Homo sapiens: one gene and its partner. The protein of the gene in region 1 interacts with the protein of each later gene in a pairwise test. Each region holds a gene or a part of one and is shown on either strand. Other genes may lie near its edges.

The links. The genes of interacting proteins can lie anywhere in the genome.
Region 2: the proteins of SF1 (region 1) and UHMK1 interact in binary tests that used the Homo sapiens proteins (3 or more experiments, as listed by UniProt).

Annotation. Positions count from the first base shown.
Region 1 is NC_000011.10:64,764,106-64,769,082, reverse strand, and holds the end of SF1 (splicing factor 1), read left to right. Parts: coding exon 1-61; intron 62-796; coding exon 797-977; intron 978-1,238; coding exon 1,239-1,512; coding exon of another isoform or gene 1,513-1,516; intron 1,517-1,831; coding exon 1,832-1,891; intron 1,892-2,003; coding exon 2,004-2,183; intron 2,184-2,927; coding exon 2,928-3,265; 3' UTR 3,266-3,564; coding exon of another isoform or gene 3,565-3,694; 3' UTR 3,695-4,477; downstream 4,478-4,977. UniProt on the Homo sapiens protein: Necessary for the ATP-dependent first step of spliceosome assembly. Binds to the intron branch point sequence (BPS) 5'-UACUAAC-3' of the pre-mRNA. May act as transcription repressor.
Region 2 is NC_000001.11:162,520,721-162,528,817, forward strand, and holds part of UHMK1 (serine/threonine-protein kinase Kist), read left to right. Parts: intron 1-1,683; coding exon 1,684-1,830; 3' UTR 1,831-8,097. UniProt on the Homo sapiens protein: Upon serum stimulation, phosphorylates CDKN1B/p27Kip1, thus controlling CDKN1B subcellular location and cell cycle progression in G1 phase. May be involved in trafficking and/or processing of RNA.

The DNA of each region.
Region 1 (4,977 bases):
CCACAGTGTGTACCAAGTGTGGAGGGGCTGGCCACATTGCTTCAGACTGTAAATTCCAAAGGTGAGGGGCTGGCTCTTGCGGTTTCCTGGTAGCCTGCGATGTGCAGGACAACTTTTCTGGCACATTCATTGGTTGCTGTTAATCTTACCAAGAGAAACATCCTTTCTGTTAGTGTGGTCTGTAATGGTGTGATTTAAAGCCCAGGATGATTAGAAATAGGCTGTACAGATACCCCTGTTTGTTTGTCTTGAGCCCAAGAAAACTGGAAGTTTCCATTTTGGGTATGTTTTTACTGGGGCTCAATAGGAAATTCACTGCTTTTGCTGTTCAGAATTGGTTCAAGAAGACTAAGCAATCTCTACAGATTTCTGACCAGTTGCAAGTCAGCACTCGATATCAACACTTTCTGACTGGCTGGCGAATATGTAAGGTTTTGTTTAGGAAGTTCGTTCTGGCAGTTGTGCCAGTCTTGCATAGATTTTCCTTTCCTCAAACTGGGAATGAAGTTTGATGAAATTGACTTGAGAGAACCTGTGCTTCATCGGTGCTCAGGGTCTCCTGTGCTCTTCGCCCAGGGGCCCCTCTACTCTGGTGATCCCAGATGCAGAACTGGGCACGAAACTGAAGATCTGATGAGACTGTTGAGAGCCATGCCCAGTAAGGGGTTAGAAAGATGTGTGATGATCTGGTGATTGAATTCTTCAGAACTTTCCATATGTTGGTTCCTCAGGATAAAAGCTTCCTTCTTAACAAGTTTTTCCCCTTTCTCTGTTTGTGTCCCCCACCCCACTTCAGGCCTGGTGATCCTCAGTCAGCTCAGGATAAAGCACGGATGGATAAAGAATATTTGTCCCTCATGGCTGAACTGGGTGAAGCACCTGTCCCAGCATCTGTGGGCTCCACCTCTGGGCCTGCCACCACACCCCTGGCCAGCGCACCTCGTCCTGCTGCTCCCGCCAACAACCCACCTCCACCGGTGAGCCTGGGGGCTGGCTCTCTTGGTCTGGCTTCCCCATTCTCTACTGCAGAGACTGGGAGCTATGGCCACGTGGTTTGGGTAGAGCAGACAATGGATGTGGATGGCAACATTGTTCTTCCGGGATCTCAGGCCAGTTTGGGGACTTCTCACTTCGGGAAGACCTTGTTCTTGTGTTCTGGTCCTGTGTCATAACCCGAAGAACAATGTTGCCACTAGGAGGCGCAGGCAGGGACGTTGGCAGGAAATGCTCTCACGTAGTCTCTCATGTCTACCACCCAGAGCCGCCCACCCTGGATGAATTCTGGCCCTTCAGAGAGTCGGCCCTACCACGGCATGCATGGAGGTGGTCCTGGTGGGCCCGGAGGTGGCCCCCACAGCTTCCCACACCCATTACCCAGCCTGACAGGTGGGCATGGTGGACATCCCATGCAGCACAACCCCAATGGACCCCCACCCCCTTGGATGCAGCCACCACCACCACCGATGAACCAGGGCCCCCACCCTCCTGGGCACCATGGCCCTCCTCCAATGGGTAAGTAAGTGTCAGACCAGAAACCTTGGGGGCTTTGGGATAAGCAAGGGGTTACGTCAGGTCGCTGTTGGCTAGAAGCAGCTCTCAAGTGGCTGGGCAATGTGCTGGGTCTGCCTGGCTTGCCAGGGTTGTGGCTCTGGAAGGAGCAAGACTCCATTCTGGTTCAGGGAGTGATTCTGTGTTGGGTAAGCACAGACCTGCCTTTTACAGGCATGGTTTTCAGAACTCGCGTAAGGATAGCAACTGAGGTTATCACAGGGGTGGCTTCCCTGGCCAGTTCCAATGTCCTGCTAAGTCCCTGCTCTTTCCTTCCATCAAGATCAGTACCTGGGAAGTACGCCTGTGGGCTCTGGGGTCTATCGCCTGCATCAAGGAAAAGGTAATGGCTGTCTGCTGGCTGTGGGTCTTCACCTAGGCTTGGGTGAGTGGGGGTTCTGGCCCAAGTCCCCGCCTTTCCCTGAGGCCTCATCTTTGCCTCCACCTGTCCACAGGTATGATGCCGCCACCACCTATGGGCATGATGCCGCCGCCGCCGCCGCCTCCCAGTGGGCAGCCCCCACCCCCTCCCTCTGGTCCTCTTCCCCCATGGCAACAACAGCAGCAGCAGCCTCCGCCACCCCCTCCGCCCAGCAGCAGTATGGCTTCCAGTACCCCCTTGCCATGGCAGCAAAGTGAGTAGAATATTTTGGGCTTGTGGGGGTGGGTGGGATGGGGGTGGGGCTGACAGGAACCATAGAGCCTCACACAAGCAGGCAGGTGTCTTGGGATGAGCCCCTGGGCTCTGCTGGGGTTGTAAACAGAAAGGGCCTCCTGGTCCAGGGGGTGGAGGGGCATCTTGAAGAGGAGAGCTGATGTTTGGTGTGGTTGTGTCTGGGGAGAGGTTCGTGGGGGCCTGGAGGGGAGCCTGCTATTGTAGGTAGGGGGCCAGAAGTCCAGACCCTCGCAGGCTGAGTGAGCGGCTGGCTGGACTGAGCCTGGTGCATATGGGTCGAGTGGGATGGTGCATGCTTGCTCTGGCAAGGGCTGCGATTGGGGTGAGAGACTGCAGAGGTGGGACTGGGCAGTGGGGAGACAGCAGCTGTGGCCTTGAGGTTGAATGTGCCGTTCGGTGGTGGCGGCGGCTGGGCGGAGGGACATCAGAGCTGTTCTTGTGTCTGGTACCTTCCCCTCAGCCCTTCCAGGGGCATTGGTGACAAAGGGCTTACTCTGTTAAGCCCAGAGACCTCGAGGCTGACCCCAGGGTAGTCCTGCCCACCCCTCCACTCCCCATCACCAGCCCCGCCCACCCGCCCCCCACCACCGTACCGCATGCCAAGCAAGGAGCAGGCGCCCCTCGCCCCCATCCCAAGGCAGCAGCCGCAGACAGCCGCGGTGTGCCCCCGCGCGTGTGACCTTGGGCTTCTTTACCACCCCAGATACGACGACTACCACCACGAGCGCTGGCACAGGGTCCATCCCGCCATGGCAACAGCAGCAGGCGGCTGCCGCAGCTTCTCCAGGAGCCCCTCAGATGCAAGGCAACCCCACTATGGTGCCCCTGCCCCCCGGGGTCCAGCCGCCTCTGCCGCCTGGGGCCCCTCCCCCTCCGCCGCCTCCACCGCCTGGTTCCGCCGGCATGATGTATGCCCCGCCCCCTCCTCCTCCGCCTCCCATGGACCCTTCTAACTTTGTCACCATGATGGGCATGGGGGTGGCGGGCATGCCGCCCTTCGGGATGCCTCCAGCTCCCCCACCGCCTCCACCACAGAACTAGACTTGTTTTTTAAGAAAATATATATTATATATAGAGAGAATTGGTCTCGTTTAAACACGCCGAACCTCACCATATGGAGCCAGACATTGGGACGCACGCATGTGATTGTGTGTGCACGCATGTGTGTGTGTGCACGCACTGGGCTGGGCCAAGCGACTGAGGATTCGCTTGGGAACGGGCAGGTGGTAGTAGGGGCGCCAGCTTGGGCTCTCCTGGCGCCCCGTAGCATCGAGTGTCTTCTTTGTCTTCTTTCTCTCCTCACCCAACTCCCTTTGCCTCTCCCCAAACCGGGCCGCCAGGATCCCTCCCCGCGGCGGCGATGGCCCGAGCCATGAGAGTGAGGACTTTCCGCGCCCATTGGTGACCCTTCCAGGCAGACAGCCTCAGCAACGCCCCTGGTGGACAGGATGGTTCGGCAAAGCAGCCTGAGTTATTTTTGTGGACGGAATCGGAACACGCTGGCTCCATATCGTGAAATTTTTATTAATTTTTTTCTTTTTCCTTTGTTACTTCTTTATCTTTTCCTTTCTTCAGACTCCGTCCAAGGAGATGCTCTCCCCGGTCTTCTGCTGCAATTTAGATTCCTTTCCCTTCTCTCCAGTTCTCCTTCCCTTACCAAGGAGAGGGGAGCAAATGGTTTTGGGCAAGGGCTTTGGCCATTCATGTCAAGCTGGTTGTGGGTTTTTCAAGGTGCCATAGCCACCCCCAAAGATGTTTGTTTAAAGCGTGGGGTTTTTTAATCTCTGCCACCCTTGTCAAGGGAGTCTTGTAAAGTTGCCGAGGGTAGGTTCATCTCCAGGTTTCGGGATTCCCATCCGTCCTGGCGATCCTGCCAGCAGTGGGTGGGCAGCCTGAGCTCCCTCGGGCTCGCCTGCCAGCCTGGAGTTCTTCCTGTGCTCCTTGATCACCTGAGCTGCCTCAGATTCCATTTGGTCCTCTCCTTCCTGGAAGGCTTCCTTTTATGTTTTGTTTTAATCCCAAATGTCTGAATGTTTTGCAGTGTGTAGGGGTTTGAGCCCCTTGTTCATTCTCCTTCCTTTTTCCTCCCGCTTCCCTCTCCATGAAGTGATTCTGTTGACAATAATGTATACTGCGCGTTCTCTTCACTGGTTTATCTGCAGAAATTTCTCTGGGCTTTTTTCGGTGTTAGATTCAACACTGCGCTAAAGCGGGGATGTTCCATTGAATAAAAGAGCAGTGTGGTTTTCTGGGTCTGCTTCTTTATTTTCTTTTTAATGCCTGCCCCGCCCGGTTTTTCTTTTCACATAAACTTCCTCTACCACCAGCAGCAGCAGCAGCACCAAAGGTGCCTTAACTTTCGTTCAGCACCAGGTCCGGGGGGGTGAGACTGTGGGTGGTTAATTAGGGAAGCCCACCACCTGCCTCCTGTGTGTGGCTTTGGTGGTGGGAGCTCAGTGTGTGGGTGGCTCCACAGTCTCCCCTTTGGTGACTAGTTAACATCGCTGAGAACCAATTTTGCCCCTCCTTGTTCACTGCTCATTTTTCTAGTCTCTGTCCTTTGAAGGCTTTTTCCTGGGGCTCAGACGTCCACGTTTGATGAGCTCCAGTGGTGATTTGTGCCTGGAAGCTGCCACCTAAGGCCCTGGGCCTGGGGAGGCATCAACACTAAAGGTCAAGCCAACTAATCCTGCCTGTCAGGCACAGAGCAGCTAAAATTAAAACCGCCAAGTGGCTTTTTTCCTTCTCTGCTG
Region 2 (8,097 bases), on another chromosome or scaffold:
ATCAGAGAGATTAGGGAGTGGTAGGGGGCTTATTAAGTAGAGTGAGCTGGGTAGAGTATTGAGATTACATTGGCTTTTATTCTGAACTAGGGCGAGGTATTGGAAGATTTCGAATGAAGGACTGACATGATCTGACTCAATATTAGCCCCAGTGGTCAAAATGAAGTGGAAGATACAGAATAGAGAGACAGGAGAAGTCTTTTCCAGAGAGAAGTATCCAGGTTTAAGATGATATGAAAAAAGTATCAGTGAGAGGAAAGTTGCTATTTTGAGAAGTTTTCACTGACATTTAAAGGAGAGTGAAAGCAGCTTTTGATAAACTCTTGGAATCACAGATTTAATCTATCTAGGCTTTTGAAAATGTCCATTACCTAGTTGTCGAAGCCATTCTTCATTTGAATTTTTAATTCAAGCAAACATGATTTTATAAGGAATGTTACAAAAAACACTGAAAAATAATGAATGCATCTGATAATGCAATTATAAAAATAATCAGAATTAAAATGATACAGCCCTATTAATTTCATAATTTATAAAAATAAGATGCCTTTCTTAGTGTGGGATGGTGTAGTATAGAAAAGTATAGCCTATCTGAAGCAAGGAGTATGATAGAAAACATGATATTCCTTCTATAAATGCATGTCTACTCATTTATCGAACTTTGCTCTATAGGTTTGGGCATAATTAAGAATCAGGTAAAAAAAAAATCAGGAATAGATTCATTATTCCTTTTTGGGGTGGGGTCAGGGAGGGGACAGGGTCTTGCTCTGTCACCCAGGCTGGAGCACATACAGTGTCGTGATCTTGGCTCATTGCAGCCTCGACTTCCTGAGCTCAAGTGATCCTCCCAACTCTGCCTCCCAAGTAGCTGGGATTACAGGCATGTGCTATCACGCCCAGTTAGATTTTGTTTGTTTGTTTTTGAGATGGAGTCTTGCTCTGTTGTTGCCCGGGCTGGAGTACAGTGGCGCAATCTCAGCTCCCTGCAACCTTCGCCTCCCGGGTTCAAGTGATTCTCCTGCCTCAGCCTCCTGGGTAGCTGGGATTACAGGTGTGTGCCACCTTGCCCAGCTAATTTTTGTATTTTTAGTAGAGACACGGTTTCACCGTGTTCGTCAGGCTGATCTCGAATTCCCGACCTCGTGATCCACCTGCCTTGGCCTCCCAAAGTGCTCAGATTACAGGAGTGAGCCCCTGCACCCAGCCAAATTGTACTTCCTAATAGGTGCAATTTCCAGCAGCTTTTGACCAATATTTTTTCCTTTTTCACTGCTAAAAGTACAGATTATCATCCAGGTACCATTGAAATGCAGTTGCTGTCTGAGCTATTCAGCCGTATCTTTGGCAGATGTCTAGTGTTATTCATCACTCCTGTAACGACCTTAGCAAAAGATTGTACATGATTCACACAACTTGTCCTTGAGAGATTTTTCAAAGTTGAGCTGAGTTGTGAGGAAGTATTCTAAACCTTGCTGTCCTGAAGTATAGTTCATAGACCAGCAGCATTGGCATCACCTGGAAGTTTGTTTAGAACAGAAACTCAGGCGACATCTCAGACCTAAGGAAGCAAAATCTGCATTTTAATAACATCTCCAGTTGATGTATATATATTAAAGGTGGTAAAGCACTGGTCTAAAACAATCTTGGTGGAAATGAAATGTTTTTTTCTCTGTCTTCTTTCAGGTCTTTGTTGAGTATGCAAATGCTGGTGATTCCAAAGCTGCGCAGAAATTACTGACTGGAAGGATGTTTGATGGGAAGTTTGTTGTGGCTACATTCTACCCGCTGAGTGCCTACAAGAGGGGATATCTGTATCAAACCTTGCTTTAATCAGTAACCTAAGGACTGTTTCCTTTTTCTCCTCTTCCATTTCTTGGGTTATTCCACATATGAATGCAGGACTACCCCCTTACCATTTTAAGAAGGTACTTTATACATTTATTTAATCCTACTAATGTGCAGCCATTGCCCAAGCAGTGACTGCGTTGCATACATTTGGCACTGAGTAGGACAAGACCTCTCAGCTATACATTGAGGGGTTTTAGAGCATCCATGTGGGCAACCCTTTTTTGTGCGGGAGAGCAGGTGTTGCTCTTCAGTATGTAGCCTAAAAAAATCTTAATTATTTCATGGATCATGAAGCAAGGATGAATAATATCATGTCTTGGTAAATACTAACAAATTTGTTAGGTTTGGTGACATCATTTACAGATTATTTCTTTATGTTGTCCAGTGGTTCTTCCTTATTGTTGATATCCATAAGCTGGCACTGGATGCTCTCAGTAATGTTAAGTAATTGTCAAGCAGCAGTTACCTACTGTGTTCTTAACACTGAGTTGTGAATTTTTTCTTAAAGCAGTACTGTAGTACTGAATATTCCTTTAAAGGAACTGCAGTGAGCCTATCTAAGTTTTTTTAAATTAAGGCTTTTAAAATAGAAAGCTGATGCTTGATCTTGCACAATTTTTATGTCTAGTATGTATGCTTGAGTGAATGTGCGAGTATGAATGATTAGAGAAAATTTGAGTCAGTGTACTTTATAGTGTGAATCCTGTGAGCTAATACAGTCTATACTTATTTCTTCCCTACCTGTTTCACATCCGTAAGATTTAAGATATACATTTTTTGAGAGGTAGTCTGTCTGATACAATGTAAATGACAAAACATAATTCCTGAGAGGCCCAGAACAAACTGGAGTCTAGCCTGGAGTTAAATTGAGACTTCTAAAATGATTGGAACAAAGACTAAGTTGTGCCAGATGTAAATCAACCCCTCTTTTAGTTTACTTTAGACTTTGTATTAGCTCATCTTTTTTGTAGTAAATCTATAGTTTTAAGGTTTCTCAAGATGTGGCTCTACCTACTATGATGAAAATTGAAGTGGGTCAAAAGAATTAGATGTACAGTGAAGGGAAAAGAAAAAAAATGGGCGAAGAGAGGGTGGAAAATAAAAGGATTCTTTTTTCTTCCTTTCTGTTTCTCGTATCCCTGCTCCCTTTTTCCTCCCCTTCCCTCATTCTTTGCCTCTATCCTTAGCTGAAGACAAACTAGAGGAGCAGCATCCCAGGTAGTTTGGCTTTTGACTGCAAGGTAGTTAAGAAAGGTGTAGATATAATGAGGTAGAAGTAGAAAGGAAGAAAAACTCAAAGAATTCTTAAAAGGATTCATAGCAACATAATGTGTCCCTGAGTAGAGGATGCTGCTATGCGTGAGTTCATGGACACAAGTTGATTACATGGTTTTTAGAATTATAATTATGGATTCTTCTTATTTCATGGTAGGTTGTCTTTAAAGATATAAAAATTAGGATGCCTTTATGAAGCACTGATTATACCAAAAAAAAAAGACAAGTTATATACAGGTTATTAATTTTTTTATTTATTTATTTTTTCCTAAGGAAAAAGTCTTCTATCTTTCCCTGCTGGAAGCCTCCTCATATTTCCTTATGTTTGCCATGCAGGTTGCTGAGAGTCCAGTTAGAATTTGCATTTTACAGAATGAAATACTTTACCCCATTCAAACAATTATTGTTTGACATTTTAGTTATTTATAATTGTCAAATTCAGGACTCTCCTTTAATGTTTATTATGAAACCAAATTTGGCATAAGGAGGCTGATTTATGAATTACCAAAGGGTCTTGTGGCATGTTCCCCAATACATGCCCTTAGAAGGAAGAACTATTATTTTTTATTTTGGCCCTTTCAGGAGTTGATTATAAATTGGTTTGTTTTCAAGTCAGAATTCAAGTGGGCAGAACCCGTATTGTGAAGACCTAAACTTTCCTAAATGTTCATATGGGTAGCAGATTTTGTGGTGATTAGAAACATCAGGTCCTTAAATACGATGAACATGGGATACAAAGGAATTCTTTATAAGGGCAAGTATCCTAAGTTAGCACATTTACTTTTCTCTCCCCTCCGCCCCCAAAAGAAAAATCCTTACAAATAAACTGCAGGTAGGCTTCTAAGCCTAGTCCTGCAGTATGCTGCTAACATCTTGATGCCAATCTTCACAGCATTCTTTGATTGTCATCTTATTGCTGATACATTCATACATATATTTAGTGCTTGACACTGTAGAATTTTGTTACAGAAGATGGTTACTAGATTTTAAGGGAGCTGAGGGAATAATTGATGAGCCTTGAATTAACCATGCATTTAATTAGATTTTTTGTTGTTGTTGTTGTTGTTTTGAGATGATGTCTTGCTCTGTTGCCCAGGCTGGAGTGCAGTGGCTCAATCTCGGCTCACTGCAACCTCTGCCTCGCAGGTTTGAGCGATTCTCCTGTCTCAGCCTCCCCAGTAGCTGGGTTTACAGGCGCTTGCCACCACACCTGGCTAGATGTTTTATATTAAAGCCAGAGAATTGAAAAAGAAATGCCTCCTGTGATTGAAATTATTTTATAGCTCTTAGCCCGTTCTACCAAAGATCACATTAGCAGATTACCCCTCCCTCCTGTGATATTATCTTTCTTAAACCTGAACCAAATATCAAAAGATACAAGTTTCATGATTAGGATGAAATATATACATAGGGATTTTGGTTTATTGAAGTTATTGAAAGACCTAGAAATTTTCTTTTTGAGAGAAAGGGTAAAGAGGTGAGGGTTCATGTCACTTAACCCCTACCCTTTTGGGCAAATTTTGTCTCAGGTAGTGTTTCATTCCCTAAATTAATACCTGTGCTTCCTTGCCTCTCACCTTCCCAGTTACTTCTTTGGGGTATTACTGTGGCACATTGTACACCCAGAAAAGGCACATACAGTGATTATTTTGTGGGAAATACTTGATTCTTTTGAAATATATTTGGAGGGGGTAGCTAGCTAGCCACTGTCAAAACTAATGCTGTATTTACAGGACAAAAACAAGTAGAGTTGGACACCTCAGTAAGAGACAGCATTAACTAAAAGTACTGACTGCCTTTTAAAGGAATTTTTAAAACTATTCTCTTGCAATAAGAGATCCGCATTTATTACCACTGGATGTCTTCCTTTTTTGTGGCCACCAATATAGCAGCTCTCTTTAGAGGGATTCCCTTTCTGCTATGCCTTGAGCCAAACTGGCTGCTTTTAGAACAAAAACCATAAGTATGGTTTTACTCGAACTTCTCTTTGTTTTTATTGAGAGAAATATTGCCTTCTTTTTGGTACTCCAGCTGCTAAAGAGTGCTGAGATATGTTAAATTATTTTTTAAAAGAAAATCTCCAAATACTTATTTAACTTGTCTTCTAGATTCATGTTGCTTATATTTTAACTATTGAGCAAGTTTATTATAAGGAATGCTGCCATATAGAGAAAGCTGAAGAGAAACCATGGGCAGAAGGCTTTTTTCTGTCTTATTACACTGGACCTTCACTCTGGTAAGGGCATCAGTTACTTTTCTGGAATAAAAGGCGGAGTTAGAGCACTTATCAGATGCTGTTTCATGGCTTGTTTTAGTTAATTTATCATGCAGATAACTAACATTTGGGTATCTTTTTGTTTTAGGTCTTATTTTCTGACTGTTAGGCCTATCTTACACATAAGTTCTACTATCAGTATACTTGGCAGCATGACTTTTTTTTTTTTTTACAGTTAATTTAATGAAAATCAGCACCATTGTAAATGATAGTAATTGTAACAACATAGTTACTGGGTGAAGGAGTAGGGGAGACACTCAGTAACCATCTATTTACCTAGACACTTATGCAGGGGTACATGCTAGGTGGCTTTATTCAGATTCGGGTACATTGGAATCACATCATGACTTTGAGTCTGATGGCTGTGTAGATAAAGATTTAAGCAAGTGCCTTGTGTTTGCTGGAAAATATTAAAACTCATTTGGGTGAAAGCTTCCCAGATGATGATAATTAATAGCACTTCTGCCTTTTTCCTGGAGTAACTTTTAGATTGAGTCACATATGATAGTATAAAAGTCCAAAATTTTCTGGGTTTACCTTTGTTTTATTTTTCATATATATATTCACTGTCTGCCTGGAAATAGCCTTGGTTTACCTTATTTTTTTGTATATGTAAAACTATTCATATTTGATTTTATTCCAATATTATATATGATGGAAAAGCCAGAATTGTCTGGCAGAATTTAATTCTTCCTTGGATCTCTAGTTCTGTTTTTAATATCAGGTTCCTTCATCAAATTTTACTACTGTAGCTCTGTGATATAATTTCATTTCTTGTCAATTATGGTCACATATAGACAAGTACTTGGTCACAATTAGCTCAAAAGAATCCCCATTTCTTAAGGTGCTCAGTCAATCACCTTTATTTTGAGATGGTAGTTTTTCAAGTTAGTATTACTTACTAGCTTTCTTGATGAATATAAAAATGTTGTCTCCATCATACAGAGCTGAGCCTCTTGTGGTATATTAAGATAAGTCCCATTCTTAATCACAGAAGAACATGGATATTTTAGTTTTTGGAGTACCCAGAATTGTAAAGATTTTGTTTCATTTTGTTTTAGGATAGCTTCTCTGCCTAATACTATAGGATATGTCATGTTCGTTATTGTAGCCACCTCCCTCAGATGTTTTTCACTATTTTTAAATTATATAATGACCAGTAGATTCACAGTAGCATGTACTTGACAAGTGCCATGGATATTTAAGAAGAAGGTAAATAATTTTAATATTTTTTGCTGTAATTTTATAGGAGCAGTGGACTGTAAGAGAAATATCTATAAATCAGAGAGTATTTAGGAAACTTTGTATTTTATAGGTGGTCATTAAAGTGATCTTCAGGATATAAGATAGTTTACACAAACTTTATTCTCCTGATAGGAAATTTTTATTCATTTTCCTACCACTCAGCACTTTTGTTCTGCCTTGTACTGCTTATGAGGATTAATGTTTTAAATTTGCTTTATTTGTGCTTTTCAGAGAGTTGTCATAATTGTGGCAGTTGTGTTTGTGGCACTGTAAATGCTGAAATTCATGGGAAACTTACCAAATGACTGCTTGAGTGTTATTTCCCATTAAATTGGGTAGCTGTCACAATAACCAGAAGAAATCTTGTGGCCCTTTTGAAGAAAGCCATGTATGTTTTGTTACCTAGGTTCATAGTATTTTAATTTAAAGGCAAAGAGAAGCATTCTACTTATTTGTCTTATAAACCATTAATCGTTTTTTGTGCAGAAGAGAGCTTATTTTGTTATACTGCTTTGTATAATGGAAATAAGTCACATTCTGGGGGAAAAAAACTGGAATTGTTTGTATTTTGTTTTTTTGGGGGGGGATCTTTATGTGAAAAATCAGAGCTACTTGTTACCATAAGCCCTTACTATCAACAAGATAATTATTTGTAATCACTTTTTTATCCCAGGTTGGAATTGCTTTCCCCTTCTAAGTTATCTTCCCTTAATAATATTTATGATACCAGGACAGTGAGGGTATAAGAGCAAATGTAGTGAGGTATTCAAAAATCCTGCATATATGGACTCAAAAGTTCTTTAGTTATTTGAATTATATATAGCTATATTATTTTATTAGCTTGGGTTGTCAGAAGATTGCCAATTTTAAGAGTAAAGAGGAGAGAGATAAGTAATAAAAATAGAGGAGGGGAAGAAAATGGCTCCCTTACTGGTCTTAGTAATCTTCTATATAGTTAATGAGCTAAAAAATGATACTTAAAGTTCCAGGTTTGGTACCGCTAGCATAGAAACATTGCCTTTCCTACACATTCCTCATCATTGTTTCCTCAGAAAATTATTTTAAGAGTTTGTGAAACCAGATTAAATATCTATATTCAGTTTGGCCTAATTTTTAAAAATAAATATTTATACTCCAGCTTTTGTGTATTTGGTGTACATCACCACTTATGCAAATCAAGGATCAGAAAACTGGAGGTTAGCCATCTCCATTATTTCCTTTTGCACATTGGGTACAGTGGGTGGCATTAGTATGCACTAGCTGCAAAGTCACAGCACCTTATGGAAATAAGTATGTTTATTATAATAAAAAAAAGTTAAGCTGCATCTCTGTAGATTATTTACTTTGCAGACTGTAAAGCTGCCCTATCTTTTCCAGCAGAATTTACTCTTCCATTCTTAATTCTTTTTTGAAATATCTTAAATAATTTAACATTCCTTTATAACTTCTTAACA